Homo sapiens: one gene and its partner. The protein of the gene in region 1 binds, or shares a complex with, the protein of each later gene. Each region holds a gene or a part of one and is shown on either strand. Other genes may lie near its edges.

What was found.
Region 2: RBL1 (region 1) and LIN52 share a complex: the UniProt entries of both Homo sapiens proteins name them as parts of the DREAM complex.

What each region holds. Positions count from the first base shown.
Region 1 is NC_000020.11:37,089,441-37,093,262, reverse strand, and holds part of RBL1 (retinoblastoma-like protein 1), read left to right. Parts: intron 1-3,822. UniProt on the Homo sapiens protein: Key regulator of entry into cell division. Directly involved in heterochromatin formation by maintaining overall chromatin structure and, in particular, that of constitutive heterochromatin by stabilizing histone methylation.
Region 2 is NC_000014.9:74,091,144-74,094,965, forward strand, and holds part of LIN52 (protein lin-52 homolog), read left to right. Parts: intron 1-88; coding exon 89-163; intron 164-3,822.

The DNA of each region.
Region 1 (3,822 bases):
AGGTATTTGGAGTAGTCATTTTCATATATCTCATGCTTCCTAAGAAGTCTTTCTCCAATCCCTACCCCTCTCTAGTCTACCTGACAAACTCCTGCTTACATTTTTATTGATTTACAAATTTTGTCTCCTTTTGTGAGGCCTTCCCTAAACTGTAGTCAAAATCAGTTATTCACTGCACTATATTCTCCTACAACACTTTATCTTCAGTTCTTCTTATAGCTTGTATATCTCACCAATTATAAATGATAGTATCTGTTCCTCTTCTTAGCTCCAGATGTGAAGTTCTGTGAGATCAGAAAACATTTTTTGTATTTCTAAGGCCTGGCAAGTAGGCCTTAGAAATGCAAAAAATGGTTTCTGATATCATAGAATTCATAGAATTTTTATGAAATAGGATTTTATCAAATAGAATTGTATTCTATTTTATTCTCATGGAATAAAATAGTTGACTTTTTTAAGGAAAGAAAGTCAGGCCAGGCACAGTGGCTCACACCTATAATCCCAGCACTTTGGGAGGCTGAGGCAGGAGGATCACTTGAGCCCAGAAGTTCAAGACCAGCCTGGGCAACATAGTGAGACCCTATCTCTACACAAAATAAAATAGGCTGGGCATGGTGGCTCACACCTGTTATCCCGACATTTTGGGAGGCTGAGGCAGGTGGATCACTTGAGCCCAGGAGTTTGAGACCAGCTTGGGCAATATGGTGAAACCCCATCTCTACAAAAATTAGCTGGGTGTGGTGGCATGTGCCTTTAGTCCCAGCTACTCCAGAGGCTAAGGTGGGGGGATTGCTTGAGCCTGGGAGGTCGAGGCTGCAGTGGCCCTCATTCCTGGGAAGTCAAGACTGCAGTGGCCCTGATTGTACCACTGCACTCCAGCCTGGGGCAACAGAGTGAGACCCTGTTTTAAAAAGTAAAATAAAAATCAGTGTATTCTTTAATGTCTTTAAAAAAATCGAAACAATAATTTTAGGACTTATATTTTCACCATCTTGCTAGAATTTTCATTTAGTAGCCTGTATCCAAAGGCTCTATAATACTTGGATGCTAATCCCAAACAACTCTTTCTCTTTTTCTTTTTTGAGACAAAAAAAGGGCCTCAGGCACTTCTCCCATCTCAGCCTCCAGAGTAGCTGGGACTACAGGCGCATACCACCACGTCCTGCTAATTTTTTTGTATTTTGTAGAGATAGGGTTTTGCTGTGTTACCCAAGCTAGTCTCGAACCCCTGAACTCAAGCAGTCCACCCACATCAGCTTCCCAAAGTGCTGGAATTACATGCGTAAGCCACCATGACCAGACCCTATTCCCAAGCAATTCATTAATCAAAGCTTGTAAAAATATTCATCTTTAAGCTTACCTGCCTCATTTAGTGCTTTGAGAAAAGACTTCTCATTCCTTCAGGGTAGGAACATTGGGTTTATTGATGGCCACCCATTTCTACCCACCCCTTTTAGATTATTGCAAGAAATCTTTTTATCAATCTTTTTATCCTTCTAGGGTTTGGTCTTAAAGACAGTCTGTGGAACAGTGTATAAGAACACTATTGTGTTGTGCTATCAGATTTACATCTGTAATTCTTTTTTTTTTTTTTTTTGAGATAGAGTCTCGTTCTTTCACCCTTGCTGGAGTCCAGTGGGTCAGTCACAGCTCACTGCAGCCTTAACCTTCTGGACTCAAATGATCCTCCCATCTCAGTTCCCCAGGTAGCTCTAACTACAGACGTGCCACATACCCGGCTAATTTTTTCCTTTTTTGTACAGACGGGGGTCTCACTATGTTTCCTAGGCTGATCTTGAACTCCTGAGCTCAAGCAATCCTCTGCCTCAGCCTCCCAAAGTGCTGGGGTTACGAGCATGAGCCACTGTGCCTGGCCTTTATCTGTAATTCTTGTTTTTTTTTTTGAGATGGAGTCTCACTCCCGTTGCGCAGGCTGGAGTGCAGTGGCGTGATCTCGGCTCACTGCAACCCCCACCTCCTAGGTTCAAGTGATTCTCCTTCCTCAGCCTCCCAAGTAGCTGGGATTACAGGCGTGCGCCACCACACCTGGCTAATTTTTGTATTTTTTAGTAGAGACGGGGTTTCGCCACATTGGCCAGGCTGCTCTCAAACTCCTGACCTCAGGTGATCCACCCATCTCGGCCTCCCAAAGTGCTAGGATTACAGACGTGAGCCACCGCACCGGCCTATCCGTAATTCTTAATCCTTAAACTTCAGCTATTGTATTTCAGCAGTGAAGTCATGAAGTGATTCTAGCTTGGAGATGTCTGAAGTCTAATGCAGAAAATTGTTGAATTCCCAAATGTCACCTTTTTGTGGCATTGTAAATTGAGATATCTACTAATATAAAGAGCCGTGCTTACTACAGTCGTGTGCTGCAGAATGTTTCAGTCAGTGATGGACCACACATACTTTATTTTTACTATATGTTTTCTGTGTTTAGATACACAAATAATTACTATTGTGTTACATTTACCAACAGTATTTAGTATAGTAACATGCTCCACAGGTTTGTAGCCTAGAAACAATAAGCATACCATATAGCCTAGGTTTAGTAGGCTATGCTATGTTTGCACAACAAAATTGCCTAATGTTGCATTTCTCAGAATATATCCCTGTCATTAAGCAATGCATATGACTGTATTTTAAAGATGACATGTTTTGGGGTAAATCCCCAAATGTTTACCTTACAAAAATGACAGTCTCCTTCATGTTGCGTAAGATTAATATTAATTTTTTATGTGTGACTCCCTTGCCAACTTTTTACTCTGTTCTTGCCTTTCCCTGCCACACTAAAGAGAAACATAAAGCAAAAACGATAGAAACTTCAGGATCATCAAGGCCATTTCTTAAAATCAAGAAAGTCATGCTGACAAATTTTAATAAAACTCTTCTGGTAATTCAGACATGCTTCACTTAATGACAGGGACATGGTCTAAGAAATGCAACATTAGGTGATTTTGTTGTGTGAACTTCACAGAGTATACTTATGCAAACCTAGATAGTGTAGTCTACTATACACCTAGGCTGTTTAATATAGCCTGTTGCTCCTGGGCTGCAAACTTGTTCAGCATGTTTCTGTACTGAACACTATAGGCAACTATAATGGTGAGTATGTGTGTATCTAAACATAAAAGGGGTACAGTAAATTATAATTTTTTAAATATATAGAACAGTTAGAACATACAGTATTACAATCTTTTTTGTGTGTGTGACAGAGTGTCCCTGTGTTGCCCAGGCTAGACTGTAGTGGCACGATCTCTACTCACTGCAACCTCTGCCTCCCGAGTTTAAGCTATTCTCCTGCCTCAGCCTCCCAAGTAGGTGGGACTACAGGTGCATGCCACCACACCCAGCTAATTTTTTGCATTTTTAGTAGAGACGGAGTTTTGCCATGTTGGCCAGGCTGGTCTTGAACCCCTGGCCTCAAGTGATTCACCCGCTCCAGCCTCCCAGGCATGAGCCACCGCGCCTGGCAAGTATTATAATCTTAAGTGACCACCATTGTATATGTGGTCCAGTGTTGACCAAGATGTTATGTGGCATATGCCTGTATTAGATTTGGAGTGTAGGTGAAAGAGTTTTTTTCTTTTTTTTTTTTTTAAGAGACAGGATTTAAGAGACAGGATCTCGCTCAGCTGCCTATGTTGGAATGTAGTGGCACAAACATAGCTCACTGCAGTCTTGAACTCCTGAGCTTAAGCGATACTCTTGCCTCAGCCACCCAAGTAGCTGGGACTGCAGGCAAGCACCACCATGCCTGGCTAATTTTTTTATTTTCATTTTTAGAGTCTACGTTGCCCTGGCTAGTCTTAAACTCCT
Region 2 (3,822 bases), on another chromosome or scaffold:
TGTTCCAGTTTATGTCCTTTGAGATTGAAGTATCATATACATTAATGTGTTTCCTGTCTTCTTGGTTCATCTGGATGTTTTGTTCTAGGGACAGATCTGGAAGCATCTTTGCTAAGTTTTGAAAAACTTGACCGTGCCTCACCAGATCTTTGGCCAGAACAATGTAAGTTTTTGCCTTCTTTATATCAGAGTCAATGCAGGAGAAACAATGTTCCTTTTTAAAGAGATTTTTAAAGAGTTATTTATTTTGTAAATTTTTATTTATTTTGAAGCTAGTCAAATTTAGCAGTGGGGGGTTGTATACAAACTTTAGTGACACTAACGTTAATAAGTTCTGATAACAGGCTGAGCTTGTTGGCTCATGCCTGTAATCCCAGCACTTTGGGAGGCCGAGTTGGGAGGATCACCTGAGGTCAGGAGTTTGAGACCAGCGTGGCCAACATGGTGAAACCCTGTCTCTACTAAAAAAAAAATAGAAATATTAGCTGGATGTGGTGGCACACACCTGTAATCCCAGCTACTCAGGAGGCTGAGGCATGAGAATCTTTTGAACCCAGGAGGCGGAGGCTGCAGTGAGCAGAGATTGTGCCACTGCACTTCAGCCTGTGTGACAGGGTGAGACTCTGTCTCAAAAAAAAAAAAAAAAAAAAAAAAGTTCTGATAACCCATTACCATCAGACCAGGCTGAAGAGTTATCATTTAACTTTAATGATTAAAGTTTTATTTTATTTCAAAGAGAAGAGATTGAAGTCCAGTGTTAAGAATAGCTGTTTGGTGGTTTAATTTGTTCAGAACACAGTGTGACTCAGAAAATAAGGAGCCATTAAACAATAATAATTATTTTGTTTGAACCAGAGTCTCTCTCTGTCGCCCAGGGTGGAGTGCAGTGGTGCACTCGGGTCACTGCATCCTCTGCCTCAGGGTTCAAGCGATTGTCCTGCCTCAGCCTCCCAAGTAGCTGGGACTACAGGTGCATGCCACCATGCCCGGCTAATTTTTTGTATTTTTAGTAGAGACAGGGTTTCACCATGTTGGCCAGGCTGGTCTCGAACTCCTGACCTCAGGTGATCCACCTGCCTCAGCGTCCCAAAGTGCTGGGATTACAGGTGTGAGCCACCGTGCCTAGCCAACAATAATTATTATTATTATATATATGTATATATATATATATGTTTTTTTTAGACGGAGTTTCGCTCTAGTTGCCCAGGCTGGAGTGCAATTGCTCAGTGTTGGCTCACTGCAACCTCTGCCTCCCAGGTTCAAGCGATTCTCCTGCCTCGGCTCCCGAGTAGCTGGGATTACAGGCACATGCCGCAATGCCCGGCTAATTTTTTGTATTTTTAGTAGAGACAGGGTTTTGCCATGTTGGCCAGGCTGGTCTCAAACTCCTGATCTCAGGTGATCCACCCACCTCGGCCTCCCAGAGTGCTGGGATTACAGGCGTGAGCCACCATGGCTGGCCATTAATTACTTTTTAAAACTACATTTATAGGCTGGGCATGGTGGTTCATGCCTGTAGTCCCAGCACTTTGGGAGGCCAATGCGGGTGGATCACTTGAGGCTAGGAGTTTGAGACCAGCCTCGCCAACATGGCGAAACCCTGTCTCTATCAAAAATACAAAAATTAACTGGCCGTGGTGGTGCACACCTGCTATCCCAGCTACTCAGGAGGCTAAGGCACGAGAATTGCCTGAACCCGGGAGGCGGAGGTTGCAGTGAGCCAAGATTGCACTATTGCACTCGAGCCTGGGCAACAGAGAAAGACTCTTTCTCAAAAAAATCCCCCAAACTACACTTATTTGTTTGTTTGTGTATTTATTTATTTGAGATGGAGTCTTGCTCATGTCGCTCAGGCTGGAGTGCAATGGTGCAATCTCGGCTCACTGCAACGTCCGCCTCCCTGGTTCAAGCGATGCTCCTGCCTCAGCCTCCCGAGTAGCTGAGATTATAGGTGCCCGCCACAATGCTCAGCTAATTTTTGTATTTGTAGTACAGACGGCTTTTCACCAAGTAGGTTGGTCTTGAACTCCTGACCTCAGGTGATCCGCCCACCTCGGCCTCCCAAAGTGCCGAAATTTCAGGAGTGAGCCACCACAGCCAGCCCCCAAAACTACATTTATAAGAAATTCACATAATACTGAGATATATAAAGCGTTTTCTCACCTTTTTCAATCACTCTTTTTTTTTTTTTTTTTTTTGAGATGGAGTTTCACTCTTGTTCCCCAGGCTGTGCAGTATAATGGTGCAGTCTTGGCTCACAGCAACCTCTGCTTCCGGGTTCAAGCAATTCTCCTGCCTCAGCCCCCCAAGTAGCTGGGATCACAGGTGCATGCCACCACACCTGGCTAATTTTTGTATTTATAGTAGAGAAGAGGCTTCACCATGTTGGACAGGCTGGTCTTGAACTCCAGACCTCAGATGATCTGCCTGCCTCAGCCTCCCAAAGTGCTAGTATTAGAGGCCTGAACCACTGCACCTGGCCCACTCTTATAACGTTAACCACTGTTAATCGTACAAATCCTTGTAAAAGGTACAACTCCGGCCAGGTGTGATGGCTCACGCCTGTAATCCAAGCACTTTGAGAGGCCGAGGTGGGCGGATTACCTGAAGTCAGGAGTTTGAGATCAGCCTAGCTAACATGGCGAAACCCCGTTTCTACTAAAAATACAAAAAATTAGCTGAGCGTGGTGGCACATGCCTGTAATCCCAGCTACTTGGGAGGCTGAGGCAGGAGAATCGCTTGAACCCGGGAGGCAGAGGTTGCAGTGAGCAGAGATTGCAGTGAGCTGAGATCACTCCATTGCACTCCAGGTTGAGCAACAAGAGTGAAACTCTGTCTCAAAAAAAAAAAAAAAGGTACAAATCCTTTTGACCTATTTTATACAGATAAGGAAATAATAATTTTTTAAGTATGTATAAGAGGGATTTTTTTTTTCTTCATAATGTTGGAGTCATATGCATGTGGCCTGCCACTTAACTTACTCCACATGTGAACAGTTCCATCTTGGTATGTGTATGTCTACTTCATTCTTTTAAATATATTTCATTGTATGGATATATTATAGTTTATGTATTCATACATTATTTGGAAACTTAAGTTATATCTACTTTGTAGTTTTTTTTTTTTTTTAATTTGAGCAAGGGTCTCACTCTGTCACCCAGGCTTTGTGCAGTGGCGTGATCACAGCTGACTGCAGCCTCAACCTCCTGGGCTCAAGTGATCCTCTCACTTCAGCCTCCTGAGTAGCTGGGACCACAGGCATGTACCACCACAACCAGCTATTTAAAAAATTTTGGGGGGGACAAGATCTCACTGTGTTGCCCAGACTGGTCTCAGACTCCTGGGCTCAGGCTGTCTTTCCACCTTGGCCTCCCAGAGCACTGGGATTACAGGTGTGAGGCACTGTGCCTGGCCTATATCTAGTTTTTGACTTTACAGACAGTTTATCAGTGAATACCCATGTACACATATCTTCATATACATGGAAGAGGATAACTGTATGAGGGCCCCTTTCCTCACATACTAGCCAGTATTAGATGTTACTAATCTATTAGTTTCATTTTACATTTCCTTTTTGGTGAGATTGAACTTTTTTTTTTTTGAGATGGAGTCTCGCTCTGTTGCCCAGGTTGGAGTGCAATGGCGTGATCTCAGCTCACTGCAACCTCCACCTCCCGGGTTCAAGCAATTCTCCTGCCTCAGCCTCCTGAATAGCTGGGACTACAGGCACATGCCGCCACACCCAGCTAATCTTTTGTATTTTAGTAGAGACGGGGTTTCACTGTGTTGCCCAGGCTGGTCTCCAACTCCTGAGCTCAGGC